Homo sapiens: one gene and its partners. The protein of the gene in region 3 interacts with the protein of the main gene of each other region in a pairwise test. Each region holds a gene or a part of one and is shown on either strand. Other genes may lie near its edges.

Region 1 (4,114 bases), on a different chromosome or scaffold from region 3:
CACGGGCATCCCCCACACCTGCCATCGTGGAAGGTCCTGTGCGGGGAGTAACCCATTAGTCATTTGCTTGTATGATCCAGCATGGGAATTCCGGCCTGGGGTCTCTCCAGTTTTGGTAACATGAAGCTCGTGTGTTGCACGCCCACCAGGTCGCTGACAAAGTGAAGCGGTTTTTCTCCAAGTACTCCATGAACAGACACAAGATGACCACGCTCACACCCGCGTACCACGCCGAGAACTACAGCCCTGAGGACAACAGGTTTGATCTGCGACCATTTCTGTACAACACAAGCTGGCCTTGGCAGTTTCGGTGCATAGAAAATCAGGTAAATCCAGCAGAAATGTTTCTCTCTCCATGTTTCATGTCTGTAGAAGAAACGTGAGGTTATTTCCATGAAGGATTGAAAAACTTTCTTATATACACAGTAACTTTTTTACTGTCCTCCTTTCTGCAAAGGGACAAGTATGTTTAAAGCGTTTTTTAAATTTACTTTTTTCGTGTTGACAAATAAAAATTCTATATATTGATGGTGTCCAACATGACATTTCGATATGTGTGTCACAGTGGAATGGCTAAGTCAAGCTATTTCACATGTGCGTGCCTTACCCCACACGCCTATTATTTGTGTGTGGTAAGAGCACTTAAAATCTACTCTCTTAGCAATTTTCCTATATTAACTACAGTCACCATGTCATGCACTGGAGCTGTTGAACTTACTTCTTTTGTGGCCTTTGACCAACAATCTCCCCACCCACCAGCCCCTGGTAGCCACCGTCGCACTCTCTGCTTCCACAAGATCACCTTTTCAAGATTCCACAGACGAATCAGACCATGCGGTATTTGTCTTTCTCTGCCTGGCTTATTTCCCTTTAAGATGTTCATGTAGGTTCATCCGTATTGTTGCAAATGGCAGAATTTCCTTCTTTCCTAAGGCTGCATAGTTCTCCACTGTGTGTGCACCGCACTTTCTCTATCCACTCATCCATCGGTGCGCGCTCAGGCTGATTCCACAGCTGTGCTGTTGGGAATGGCGCTGTGGTGAACGCGGGCGTGCAGATGTCTCGTCGGCAGATGAGTTCATTTCCTGTCAGTTATACCCGGTAATGGGGTGGCTGGATCGCAGGGTAGTTCTATTTTTAATCTTTGGAGGAATCTCTGCACTGCCTTCCACAATGGCTACACTAATTGCTGAGTGTGTTTAGAGTCTGGCATGCACTCCTTTTGGCTAGGCTCTATTTGCTGGCATTACATAAACTAAAATTAGCAGCTGGACACCCCTCTATGAGTATGGTGACAATCACTGTCGTTTCTAAGTAGCCAGGGTATCCAGATGGCGTCATGGCTTCCAACCCACCCTGCTTTCCTTTTCTTTTTCTAATTAATTATTAATAGAATCAAGAAAGGACAATACAATCAATGAAAAAGGATAGGCCCTTCCCTTTTCCAAAGCCAGTTTGGGAGCCATGACAGAGCAGCTTGGCCATGGCCTCCCTAGCGCAGGGGATCATCTGACGAGAGGAGAGAGCCGGCCAGTGAGTCACTGTCAACAATGATAAATCAGAGGCCGGCTGCAATGGCTCACGCCTGCCATCCCAGCACTTTTGAGAGGATCACCTGACCCCAGGAGTTGGAGACCAGCCTGGGCAGCATGGCAAAACCCCATCTCTACAAAAAATACAACAATTAGCCAAACGTGGTGGTGCACACCTGTGGTTCCAGCTACTTGGGAGGCTGAGGAGGGAGAATCACCTGAGCCAAGGAGATGGAGGCTGCAGTGAGCTGTGATCGTGCCACTGCACTCCAGCCTAGGTGACAGAGCCAGAGCCTGTCGCAAAACAAAATTTAAATTAAAAAAATTAAAAACAGTGATAAATCCTGAGGAGTCTACACTGAGCTAGAGGACACCTAGTGTCCTTCCAGCACCTGTGAGACCATAGCACAGTGTGATCAGTGCACAACAGAGGCACACACAGGTGCTGTATGACCACAGAGTAGTAACCTTCTAATCAGGAAGATGTCTTGAACTCTTCCTTAAGGACATGAGGAAAACCCGCCTGTGCTGAGCTAGAGGCCACAAGATGCCGCTTTATACCTCATGATCGGTGACAGCATCTCTGAGCAGGTGGCCTGTAAAACGAGGGTGGATCAGTGGCAGGGGTTCTACATCTGGGACCGTTGACCCCCCGAGGAGACATTAGGCGATGACTGGAGATGATTTTGGTTATCATGACTGGGCTGGGGTCTGTGCTCCCAGCATCCCGTGGGTGGAGCCCAGGGATGCTGCTGAATGTCCTACTGTGTGCAGGATGGGCCCCTCCCAACCCCACACCCAGCAGAGAATTCTTTGTTCCACGTGTTGGTGGTGCCAAGGTTGAGGAATGCTGAACATTTGGGACTAGAAGACGTTTGGGGCTGCATGGTTGTAAGGAAGAGATACTGTATCTGGCTGATTTCCGTGGAAAGGAACTTGCTCAAAGAGTGACTTAGAGGGTGGAAGGGAGGGCAGGGGTCACAGGGTCTGGAAAGCTGGGACTCAGGCCAGGTGGCTGCTGCCCTATATCCCCTGCTGTGGCTGGACGGAGCCCACACGCCACACCCAGCCTGGGCTGGATGCCAATCTGCTCTGCCATCCCTGAGTCCCAGTGTCCCTGGGTCACCAGGCAGTGGAGTGGCCAAGCCTCGGGTGATGGGCCCTGTCATCTGGCCACCCAGGGCAGGAGAGGGAGCTGCCCCAGCTCTGGCCTCTGTAGTGGGAGGTGGGGGCTTGGCTCCCACCAAGATGTACTCAGGGGCGGGCTCCCCCAGATCAGGAAGGGGGTTCAGACACTATGCAGCCAAAAGAGTGACGCATGTGGGAGCATCAGAGACAGCTGCAGGTAAAGGTGGAGACGCTGCTGTCATCTGCAGTGACAGCTATGCGTGATCTGGACCCGCCCCTCCAGGCTTTTCCAGCACACACGCCCAGCATCTGGTGGGGACTCTGGTAATTTACTTTTTCACCTCTGGGACTTGTGACCCGCTTTTGGTGCGTGCCAGTGTTTCAACAGCCCCACAGTCCGTCTTTGCGGGGCTGTGGTGTCACAGGCCTCTCTTTCCAGGTGCTACAGCTCGAGAGGGCAGAGCCACAGTCCCTGGACGGCGTGGACTGAGGCCGGTTCCTTCCTGGAGGCCTCCTGTCCTCGGGGACCCCAGCACCTCATCATCAGCATTGCTGGAGCCAAGGGTAGGAGCCCTACACTAGGAGCCCAGGATGGGACGGCGCATCAGCCGAGAGGGAGGGAACTTTTCAGTCAAATTCCTCAAAAAGAGGCTGGAATAAAGCCTGGGCTTAAAAAGAGGCTGGAATCCAATGCACATGATTTTGACCTCCCGCCAGCGTGCGCTTCCCCGCGAAGTCTGGCATTCTCCGAAGGAAGCCGCCTGGGTAGGAGGGTTCCAACCGCCGCCCCGTGTGGCATCTTTGCTGCAGGAACAAGAACAGTAGCTCCCGGGAAGGGAGGGGTGTCATGAGCAGAAAATGAAGGAGAGAAGACCTTCTCTCCCACCCACACACACCTTCCTGTCCTGGGTTCCAGAAGGTTCTGGGGAGATGGTCCCTGCAGAGCTTTCTTCCTGGGAGTCTGGGGACCAGTCGGCCTTACTCCTGTCCTGTGGGAGAACCACCCCATCTAGGCATGGGGCCAGGTGTGGGGCAGGGGCGTGGCACTGTGGGTCCCCCTTCCTGCTGATCTTCATGCCATTCTGGGCACCTTTGTCTCTTTATGGAATGGGGTGAGGAGCGGCTTTTCTGTCCTCTCCAGAGCTCCCCTTGGTCCTGGAACCCTCTCTCCCGGGTTGCCCCAGGGAGTCTCAGCCTCCCATCCTTGCAGGGTGAAGATGAGACGAAGATGGGTGCACAGGCCAGAGCCTCCAGGGGAGTGGAGTGGGTTTGGGATCTGTGCTGCCCACCGGGTGTCCGCTCTTTCTCTCCCCCATGTCTGGCCCCTCTGCCTGGGACACTCCTGCTTCCCAGCCTCACCTAGAGCCCCACACCAAACCCAGGGCCCGGGCTGGGACACAGACCACAGCTGAGGGTGAATTTCCCAGGAGGTGCTGTCGGGATAGCAGAAAGTG
Region 2 (3,500 bases), on a different chromosome or scaffold from region 3:
TTGTTCCTTAATCATTTCCATTGCCTTATCTTCAGGTTCACTGATTCTTCTTTCTGCCTACTCAAATCTGTCTTCGAGTCTCTACATGGCCCCTGACCTATGAGGGTATGACTTATAATTTTTCAACTTTACGATGAGTTTATCTGGACATAATTCACTGTAAGTCAAAGAGCTCCTTAGGATTTAGAAAGTTATGATTTCTACTGAGTATCACCTTTCCACCATCAAGTCAAAATATTTTAAGTCGAATCATCATAAGTCAGGGACCATCTGCTGTGCTACCAAGCATTAAACATACTTTCTCAACTTCATGATATTTTCAACTTACCATGGGTTTATCAGCTGCACTATAAGTCAAGGAGCCTCTGTAGTGAGTTTCTCCTCACTGTTAGTCCACTTTTCAGTTCCAGAATTTCTTTCTAGCTTCTATTTAGGTTTTCTCTTTATTGTATTTCCATTTTCTTCATACATTGTTTTTTTAAAACTTTTTCCATATTTCCCTTTAGTTATTTGGGCATCTTTAAGACAGTGTTTTAAAGTCTTTGTCTCATAGATATGTATCAGGTATTTTTTAGAGACAATTTCTATCGGTTTATTTTTTTCCTTTGAATGGGCTGTACTTCCCTGTTCTTGAATGGGCTGTACTTCCCTGTTCTTTGTGTATGCTTTGTGATTCTTTGTTGAAACTGACAGTGAATTCTTGCTCCACTTACAAAGTATTTTGCTTTTCAGAAGCATATTTGTATATAAAAATATTTTTAATTTTTTTGTCACAATGTGCTATAAAAACAATGTTTCCAGTAAACTAGTAGGAGATTATAAGGATCCATTCTAGGAAGTCACTGAATCTGCTTAAGGTATGGGGTTAACCATGAGTTCACCAAATAGTCTTTCAGGGGTGATCTTAGGTATGGAACTGGTAAACTTTGAGATTCTTAACTCCATGTGTAATGCCATTCTAAAACACAAATGTCATCCGTCTACTAAAAAAACAAATCAAAAACAAACTTCAATCTCTGTATCCTCACAGAAGGAAAAGTCTAAACTATTAAGAACGCTATACAATGCATTTCACAATGTGCTCCTAACCTAACCTACCTTTGTCTCCTTTTACTTTTACCATGAACTCTTACAATCTTGCCACACTAAATTATTTACCTGTTCTTGGAGCAAGAATCCTACTCCTCTGTGATTCCATGCTTGTTTACCTGAAGCTTCCTCAGCCAGGAGTGTCCCTTCTGCCCCACTTTCATTTTCAGCTGCACTCCTGCTTATTTTTCAAGTTCTAGCTCAATTGTCTCCTTCTCTGAGAAATCTTTTCCAATGTTTCTAGGCAAAGTGACTTATTCCTTTCCTTAGGTTCCATAATGTTTTTTATTCAATTTTGTTACATATTTCCTCAGCAGTTAGCAGAGTACCCTGCACATAACAACATGTTCAATAAACGTGATGTCTTGAACAAGAAACACTGGCATCTAAAACCTAGGAGATAAGATATCCATATTTCTTAAATCCATACAGATAAATTTTTAATAACAGGATTTAGCTAGTAGAAATATTTGAGTTCTTGATAAATCATTTGACTGGTAATTTTAACATACAATGTATTACAATTCAAAAGCATCTGAAGTTTCAGTTGCACTGAAGATTTCTCTATCACTTCCCCTTTAAAGTTAAGTTTCAGAATATCCTTTACTTTCACACGTATATAGTCTATTCTCATCTTTACTAACACAGGATCGGTGACCCTATCTCTTTTTTTTATCCACTCCAAGATTAGTGCTTCAATTCACTTGAACCTAATTAAATGATACTTTTAATTAATTTCATTTACTCCCATGTTCTTTTTTTAGAAAGTAGACAAAAAAAATTTGATTAATTTTTCAAACTTCTAAAGCCAATAAGTATAATCTCCTACATCTTTAGAATTTGTAATACCATAAAAATGGATTTCCTAGTGTGCTTTGAAAAACATTAGCTGTAATAAATCATTTTTTAATGAAGCAGGGTCAAAGAAAGAGTATCTGTTATATTTTGCATTCCACTGCAGTTCATGTCATTCAATATTAATGAAAGCCTAGTCACATTTCCTAATAAGAACTTTAAACCTTTGTATCACAGTGAAAACAGTGTAAAATTAAGGTCAGATATTTTATTTTTTTAATAGAACAAATTTAAGTCAGCCTCAACATACAAAAAGACCTTTTAAAATATCTGATCATGAAAAATAGCAAATTATGCCCCTATCCGCAGAGAAAAACCATATACTAAATGCTGGTTCTTTAGATAGGCAAACCACTATCACTAAGCTTAATCCTTTATGAAAAGGTACATGAAGTCTTTAATTCATAGATAAGAGATTACTTTTAGAATCCCTGAAGCCTTGCCAAATGTTCATTCTCCTATGAGCTAATGAGTCAGCCACTCTTCCAGTGACTATGCCAGGACAGTCTGTTAGAAACTAATTAAAGAGCAGATACCTTTATCAGAGTATGTGTGTTCTAATGCATGGAGATCAGGCAATAGGTGAATACAGTTTATGCAGCAGTAGGTGAAGAAATCAAGGACGACTATTTTTCCACATAGATCCTTGTAGACAGAAATAGGTTCTTCTGTGTTCAGCCATTCTAATCCTGAAATTTACATAAAATAAATTACAATGATTAAAGAGAAAGATAAAATTTACCTAAAACTTTCCATTAAAATGTGACCTTTTTTTTTAAGACTAATGCAAATAAACACTTTGAGAGAGTAGCACCATATAAAGGCTGTGGCAGTTGCATGTATTTATAGTTGTTTACTATGAACCATCATTTTCTATCAACAAAAGAAATAAAAGATATATCTTTATGACTGTAACTAAACAGGTATTTGGGTTTGGAAGAACATACCAAAAAGGCAAATTAGCAGAGATTAAAAGCCCAAAAAGGGAAGAAAGAAAAGGAAGGGATGGGGGTACGGGTGGGGGAGCAGGAGGAGTAGAGGATGGGAAAGCTGCTATTATGATGCCATCTGCAAATAAAGCAAGAAAAAGCTACTAAATTCTTTCAGAAATAGGGTAACAGTCTGTGAAAAGGAGTAAAGGCAACACACTTAGGCAAAAAAAAAAAAAAAGGAAGAAATATCAAATAGTAAATGAACCTAATTACATAAACAATTAGATACAAATGGGCTACTGAGAATAAAGGTCAAGCTTAAGAATAGTAAGATATAACTAAACATCAAAAAGGAGTGAAATGTGTGTAAGGATAAACATACAAAATGCCTAAAACAGTTTCCTAAAGGAGAAGAAACTGAAATATTCTGGATTTGGATGAGACCGTAAATACAAAATAAAATATGCTAAATGTAAAGTTAAGCAAAATACACTTATTATTGTCACAGATTTCATTGAGGTAACATTAATATTAATGAAGAACGTGTTCCCTTTCCTCCAAAAAAAGAAAGCTCTGTACTATGAAGAAAGATTTTGTTAACTAATAATAAAGTACAGCATCCCT
Region 3 (3,500 bases):
AGTGGTGCCCTCTTTGGCAGATTTTCTTCCCTCAAATTCCTGCTGAGGCTCGGCTCTGGATGCCACTGGGCCGAGGAGAGTTCATTCTCACACAGCTGCCCACAGGGAGCAGACCAGAACTGACAGCCCACAGGCGGGGGTTCCCTCTAACCTGCAACAAAGCATGAGAGTGGCCCCAGGCTGCTTCCTCACCCCGGGAGGAAGTCAGAGGGGTCCAGGTCTCTGCCGCCCTCAGGGATAGCAGCTGCTTCCAGAATCTCTGTGGCTCCTGGAATACAGGCAGCTCTGGGCATCCCCACACTCCTGGGACCTCATCCACCCCAGTCCTCTGTTTGCTCTGGGCCAGTGAAGGTTAGGAGGAACCAGGCTTTGCTGCTTGCTGGCTGTGTGAGCTTGGAAACATCGCATCTGCCTGCTTCCTCATCTGTCTGGAGGGGATATAATGTGGCCCACCTCAGGGGCCACTGTGAGATGGATGAGGTGGTCCACACAGCACAGTCAGTGGCATTTACCTGTTGCTGACTTTTCCCACATACACTCAGTTCTGCTGTAACGCCACACATACGCTCCTAACAATCACTGTGCTGTGTAAAATCACACAAGGAAAACCACAGGGTTTATGGGGAAATGGAGTTAGGGGCACAGCACTCACAGACTTTGTCGGTGACACATTAAAAATAAAAGCACTAGCACCACTTACATTAAATGGTAAGAAATACCCAAGTACTGCTGCAGGCACGGCACCCTGCCTTGGAAAAGACCTGCCGTAGGCTTACAGCAGTGTGCACCTGCCCTCCCCGCAGCCCAGCTCCCGGCCACATCCTGTGTAGAGCGGGAAGAACAACAGAGACCTAGGAAGAGTAAAGGAGGGAAAGGAGGGAAGAGTGGAAGGAGGTAGGAGCGCTCCCGGGTAGACTTAGAGGGGGACACATGGTCCCTGCGAGGAAGGGCATATCCAGTGTGAAGCGGCTCCTGAACCAGGTGCTTAAGTGGTGATCTGCTTCCTCCCAGAACCTGACCTACGAGATCATCCTGACGCTGGGGCAGGCCTTCGAAGTGGCCTATCAGTTGGCCCTGCAGGCCCAGAAGTCCAGGGCGACGGGCGCCTCTGCAGCTGAGATGATTGAAACAAAATCTTCCAAACCGGTGCCTAAGCCTCGGGTCGGCGTGAGGAAATCCGCAGTACGTGGGCCCCACTGGCCAAGATCCCCCTCTCCCTGGCCCCAGGGATTCAAGGGCTCAGGGTGGTCAGCGTGAGGAGGGTCTTCTGGCACTTCCAGAAAGCTGGCCCTCCAGGGAAATGACCCTCTTAATTGTCCCCCAACCCTGCCAGGTCTCGCCCCTGGAAAGGCAGCAGCTCCTCTGGCCTGGGCGGGCCTCTCATGCTCCTGTTTCCCTCCCTCGCTGGGCTCCCCCAAGGGCAAGGCCGTCAAGGGGCTGCAGAGAGCGGCCTGCAGGCAGCCCCCAGTAACTGCGCCATCCCTGTGTCTGTGTCTGCTTTGCTCTGCACCCCAGGTGCCGCTGCCCCCCGATAGTCGCTGTTGTTACTGTCACACCTGCACCACCCACCGTCCTTCCTACCTACCGCTGCCATCTGTTAGTCCTGGAGTCAAGGTCTTTACGCCTCCTGCTGTCTTGTGTGTCAGTCTCCCCGAAGTGACCGTGAGCGCTCTTAGCCTCTGGCGGCCTCTCCCTCTGCCTGTGTGACATTCTTTCCCCTCTTCCTGAGATGCCCTCTGCCTGTTCTGTGTGTGCTTCAGCCCTCTCTGTTTTTCTGTTGTGTGTCCTCTCTCCAGAGGTCTGGGGTGACTGCTGTGGTCTTGCCTTGGGGTGAGCTCTCTGGGCCTACCAGAGAGACCCGAGGCTGGACATTTGCAAGCCCCATATCCCCTTCCTGCCCAGTGTGAGTGGGTCTGGGGCTTAGAGCAGGAGGCCCGCCTAGGACAGGGGTCCTTTAACTGAGCAATCCCAAGAAATCCCGGAGAGAAGCTGTGCCTGGAGGTGGCCCTCCCCAAGATGCTCCAGGAGGGTGTCCCTCCTCCGCCTGCCCCCAGGGGCCTGCTCTTTGGCCGAGGAGAATAAGGGCTGCCCCTCCCAGCACAGGGGCCACAGCCTGGCCTGGGGGTGGGAGGGGCCTGCTGCCTCCAGCCCTGGCACAGAGCTCCCTCTGACTCTTGACTGCTTCCTTGTTTGGCAGCTGGAACCACCTGATATGGACCAAGATGCCCAATCCCATGCCAGTGTCTCCTGGGTTGTGGACCCCAAACCAGACTCTAAGCGGAGCCTCAGCACCAAGTATGAGACCACTATCTTCTAAAACAACCCACTCCCTGTCTCCACTAGTCTCACTGTGCCTTTGCCATCCGATCTTTCTGCTGTCCTCAACTCTCTCCTTCCAGCTGCTGATGCCAAGGCCCCACCTGCACTGGGACCTGCTCCTCTTGGGCGGGCGGCAGCGTAGACGCTGTACACTTGCAGCTCTCGCACCTACCACCACCGAACACTGTGAATTCTCCCCCTTGGGCTGAGGACAGCTTGAGGGGGTGAGTTGCCTTTGAGGTGGGCATCAAGAGGGCTCAGGGGTTCTGTTGCACCCTGGAAGCCTCCACGGGCAGGCACTGTGAACCCCGACGGGCAGGGCAGTCTCCAGCAGGATCCCAACGGCACTGATAGCTCCCCAGGGTTGGGCTGGGCTCTGTGTGGCTCCCTCCTCCTGTCTGCTGTACTGAGCCACAGCTGGGCACCGTTGCCAAGAGCTAGCTGACTGTTCTCACCTCTCCTGAACCAACCAACCACTGTGACCACCCAGTGCCAGAGTCCCCAGCACTCTGCTCACAGCCGGCCTGCAGCCCCACCCCACTGTCCTCCGCTACTCCGAGGTGCTGGCCTCACTCTCATGGCTAGGCCCTTGTGAGACCTTGAGCTCAGTGATGTGGCTGGACCAGGGACAGACTGCTTTCTGTGAGGGCCCAAGATATGCGCCAGGCCCTTGGGTCCGTGCTGACTGCCCCACTTGGGGCTCTGGGTATCTGAACACTCACAGGCTGGCTCACACAGCAGGTGTCTCAGTCCTGATGGGCCTTCCCCTCCAAGGAGGTGGGTGGCATGTGTGTGGACAGCCCCTCTATCTTCGCCATGGAGTCTCAAGGCCTGGCAGCCTTGGGCCTGGCTCTGGAGTCTAGCTCACTGAGGAGGAAGGCCTTCCGTAGAACCAACGAGGAGGCGGCCTGTGCCCTGCACACACGGCGCACCTTCTTCCCTCACAGAACAGAGCTGCTGGAGGACAGGGACCTGGACCAAGTGGCCTCCATTGTCCTCTGGGAGCTTTCTGACACTCTCCACGGTGGGGGATCACAGATAGACAGCGCCGTCCAGCATGCCCCTGACCACCTCCCTCAGCCTCCTGACTCCTCCGAAAGGAGAGGCCGTCCCATCGCAGCAGCTCAGAAGCTGGGATGGTGGAGCTGAGTCTTTGAAGAGGCACCCCATTCTCCAGTGTG
Region 4 (2,712 bases), on a different chromosome or scaffold from region 3:
TGACGTGGGCCCATAGGATTGGGGATGGGTGGTGGGGTCTGACTGCCTTGTCCCAAGAGTTGGGTGAATGCCGCCTTTGCTCACTTGTGCGGTCACTCTCCAGGACTCCTGCCTGGCTTCTCCCACTCCAAGCCCGAGATAGCCCAGCAAGGAGGAAGGTCTGGCCCCAAAATACGAGCTCCCCAAGTGGATATCCTAAAATTCATCTTTCATGGCCCTACTTTATTGGGAGGGAATGTGAAAATTGTGGGAATATGTCCATTGACATCTGGGGCTCAGGGCAGGGGAGTGTGTCTAGTTTTAAGGTGTGCGCTTTTAGCCATGCAGTCATCGCCCAGTCTGTCCTGCCTGGAGCTTTTCATTTCCCTGCAGCTTTCCTGAGAAAAGACAGAGTGTGCTTTCTCTGCATCCTATGAACATGGCCCCAGGACTGCAGCACCTCTGTGTGCACACAGCCAAGGACAGTCGGGGGACCTCTGCTGGTCCTGCACCCGCTGCCCTGGGTGCTCTGTCATCCCCATCCCCCATTTCTCTTTAATCTGTTCTTCTTTTGTGGTTTCATGTTCTCTTTGTTCTGGGTTATTCAGAACCTGTCTGCCTCCCCACTGTCCATTGTACTTGTTCCTGCCTCCTCCTGCTTTGTGCCAAGGATTTACTTGCCTTCGCCTTCTGGCTCCATACAGTAGTCTCTCTTCTTGCGGTCTTGGCCATTCCCCCCACCAGGCCCCCAGCTGTGGCTGTGTCTGGGTCTTGGCATTTGTGATTTACATGGGTCTAGGCCCTTTCTCTCCACCTGTCCTTCCCCTCTTTGGACACAAACCAAAACATCTGAGCATCTCCTTACAGAGGGAGGTCTCCCTGGGGTTGCTGTGCCAAGTTTCCATTGCTTTTGCCCAGAATGAGAAATCAGTTGTCAGTGGCCCTGCTGGGTGAATGGAAGGACTTTGGTCGGGCTGGAAGGGCACCCCATCAGTCCTAACTTTTGGTGGCCCTTGTTGGTGGCTGGCTGGCTAGGCTGCTAGAGAGGTACATCAGGTGGGTGGCACCCATCTGCTGGCTTTAGGCAGGCCATCTCCTCATCCATGTTTTCAGAATCTTCTTGCATGGCTTGTAATTGGGTTGGGGTGTGGCCTGAGCCCCTGTGGGGACACACTGCACTGTCCCACCTGTATGCTTCTCTGCTGTCAGGAACTGGATTCGTGTCCAAGAGCCAAGGCTAGGGACTGGAGGAGGAGATTTCTGTCTTTGACCCCTCCATATTAGTCCATTTTCATGCTGCTATAAAGAACTGCCTGAGACTGGGTAATTTATAAAGGAAAGAGGTTTAATTGACTCACAGTTCCACGTGGCCCGGGGAGCCTCAGGAAACTTACAGGAAGCCTCAGGAAACTTACAATCATGGCAGACAGCGAAGGAGAAGCAAGGCACCTTCTTCACAAGGCAGCAGGAAGGAAAATGAATGCAGAAGGAACTACCAAACACTTATAAAACCATCAGATCTCGTGAGAACTTACTATCACAAGAACAGCATGGGGGAACCGCCCCCACGATTCCATCACCTCCACCTGATCTCTCCCTTGTCACATGGGGATTATAGGGATTACAATTCAAGATGAGATTTTGGGTGGGGACACAGCCAAAGCATATCACCCTCCCAGGCCTGAGCAAGGCCCAAGCAGGGAGCCTCTGTTGGGGCTGGAACCCTGGGAGGGGTAGAATTCTCCCCTCCACTCAGATTTGTTCCCTGTTGCTGCCCACCTGGCCCCTGCCCTGCAGCCTTCTGCCTGGCCTTCTCTCTGTTCACTTCTCATTTTTAGCAGTCAACAGACTGGGAGATGGTGGCCAAGGGTGTCATTTTGTACACAAGCTTTGTGGCTTTTGTAAGCCCAGCCTGCAACTCTTGAGGAAAACTCTTTGGTTTGATTTTTTTTCTCTTCAGAGTTGGGGGTATTCAGGGAGATGGGCAAGGGCTTCTTGTGAAGATTTCAATTCTTGAAGGGGTGGAAGCCTCCTGGGCTGGGGGAAGGGGTGGGGCAGGAACCAGCAGGGGTGTGGACACAGGGGGCTGGCACCTGGGATACCGTAGGACAGCTGGGCAGGAAGTCGGATGCTGCTTTATTGAAATTTTTGATATTTTATCATTTTTTCATTAGTTTTTATTTTAAAACACTGCTTTAAAATAATTAAAATATGATTTATCTTGGTTACCGAATCACTTAGTGTTGCCTTAAATTTTGCGCCTAGTCCCTGCCTGACCTTTCCTCCTCCTCTCCCAGGGCTTTAGGTACTCTTAGTCCCTGTGTCATAGGGACTGGGAGCAGATAGGCCCCTCCGCCCACCCCACCCCTCCCCCACCCCTCGCCCACCCCTCCCCCACCCCTCCGCGTTCCTACTCTAATCTCCTACCCTGATCTGCGGTGCAGGGCGGCGCTGGAGAGGGTGGCTTGCGGCTGATCCCGCGGTCTGGTTTGCGGCTAGGTGTGTGTCCCCGGACTGGCGTGGGTCCCGGGCCAGGCGTGGTCCTGGGCGGCGCGGCCCGTGACAGGACCCGACGCCTCCTGGTGGGCATTTCGCTCCAAGCCGGGACCCTCGGAGCCTGAGGGGATTCGGGAGGGAGGAGTCGCCGTGGGGCGGGGCGGGGCGGGGCGGGGGAGGGCTCCCAAGGCCCCGAGGACAGTCCCACCCTCACCGACAGGACCGTCCCTGCGCATC

Evidence for each region.
Region 1: the proteins of ANKS1A (region 3) and NADSYN1 interact in a two-hybrid assay, tested with the Homo sapiens proteins (one large-scale study listed by BioGRID).
Region 2: the proteins of ANKS1A (region 3) and NHLRC2 interact in a two-hybrid assay, tested with the Homo sapiens proteins (one large-scale study listed by BioGRID and IntAct).
Region 4: the proteins of ANKS1A (region 3) and GPRIN2 interact in a two-hybrid assay, tested with the Homo sapiens proteins (one large-scale study listed by BioGRID).

The regions. Positions count from the first base shown.
Region 1 is NC_000011.10:71,498,203-71,502,316, forward strand, and holds the end of NADSYN1 (glutamine-dependent NAD(+) synthetase), read left to right. Parts: intron 1-149; coding exon 150-326; intron 327-3,099; coding exon 3,100-3,150; 3' UTR 3,151-3,614; downstream 3,615-4,114. UniProt on the Homo sapiens protein: Catalyzes the final step of the nicotinamide adenine dinucleotide (NAD) de novo synthesis pathway, the ATP-dependent amidation of deamido-NAD using L-glutamine as a nitrogen source.
Region 2 is NC_000010.11:113,857,661-113,861,160, reverse strand, and holds part of NHLRC2 (NHL repeat-containing protein 2), read right to left. Parts: intron 2,634-3,500; coding exon 2,481-2,633; intron 2,475-2,480; exon of another isoform or gene 1,159-2,474; intron 1-1,158. UniProt on the Homo sapiens protein: Required for normal embryonic development.
Region 3 is NC_000006.12:35,084,755-35,088,254, forward strand, and holds part of ANKS1A (ankyrin repeat and SAM domain-containing protein 1A), read left to right. Parts: intron 1-1,011; coding exon 1,012-1,182; intron 1,183-2,197; coding exon 2,198-2,295; coding exon of another isoform or gene 2,296-2,317; exon of another isoform or gene 2,318-3,500. UniProt on the Homo sapiens protein: Regulator of different signaling pathways. Regulates EPHA8 receptor tyrosine kinase signaling to control cell migration and neurite retraction.
Region 4 is NC_000010.11:46,541,236-46,543,947, reverse strand, and holds the end of GPRIN2 (G protein-regulated inducer of neurite outgrowth 2), read left to right. Parts: 3' UTR 1-2,212; downstream 2,213-2,712.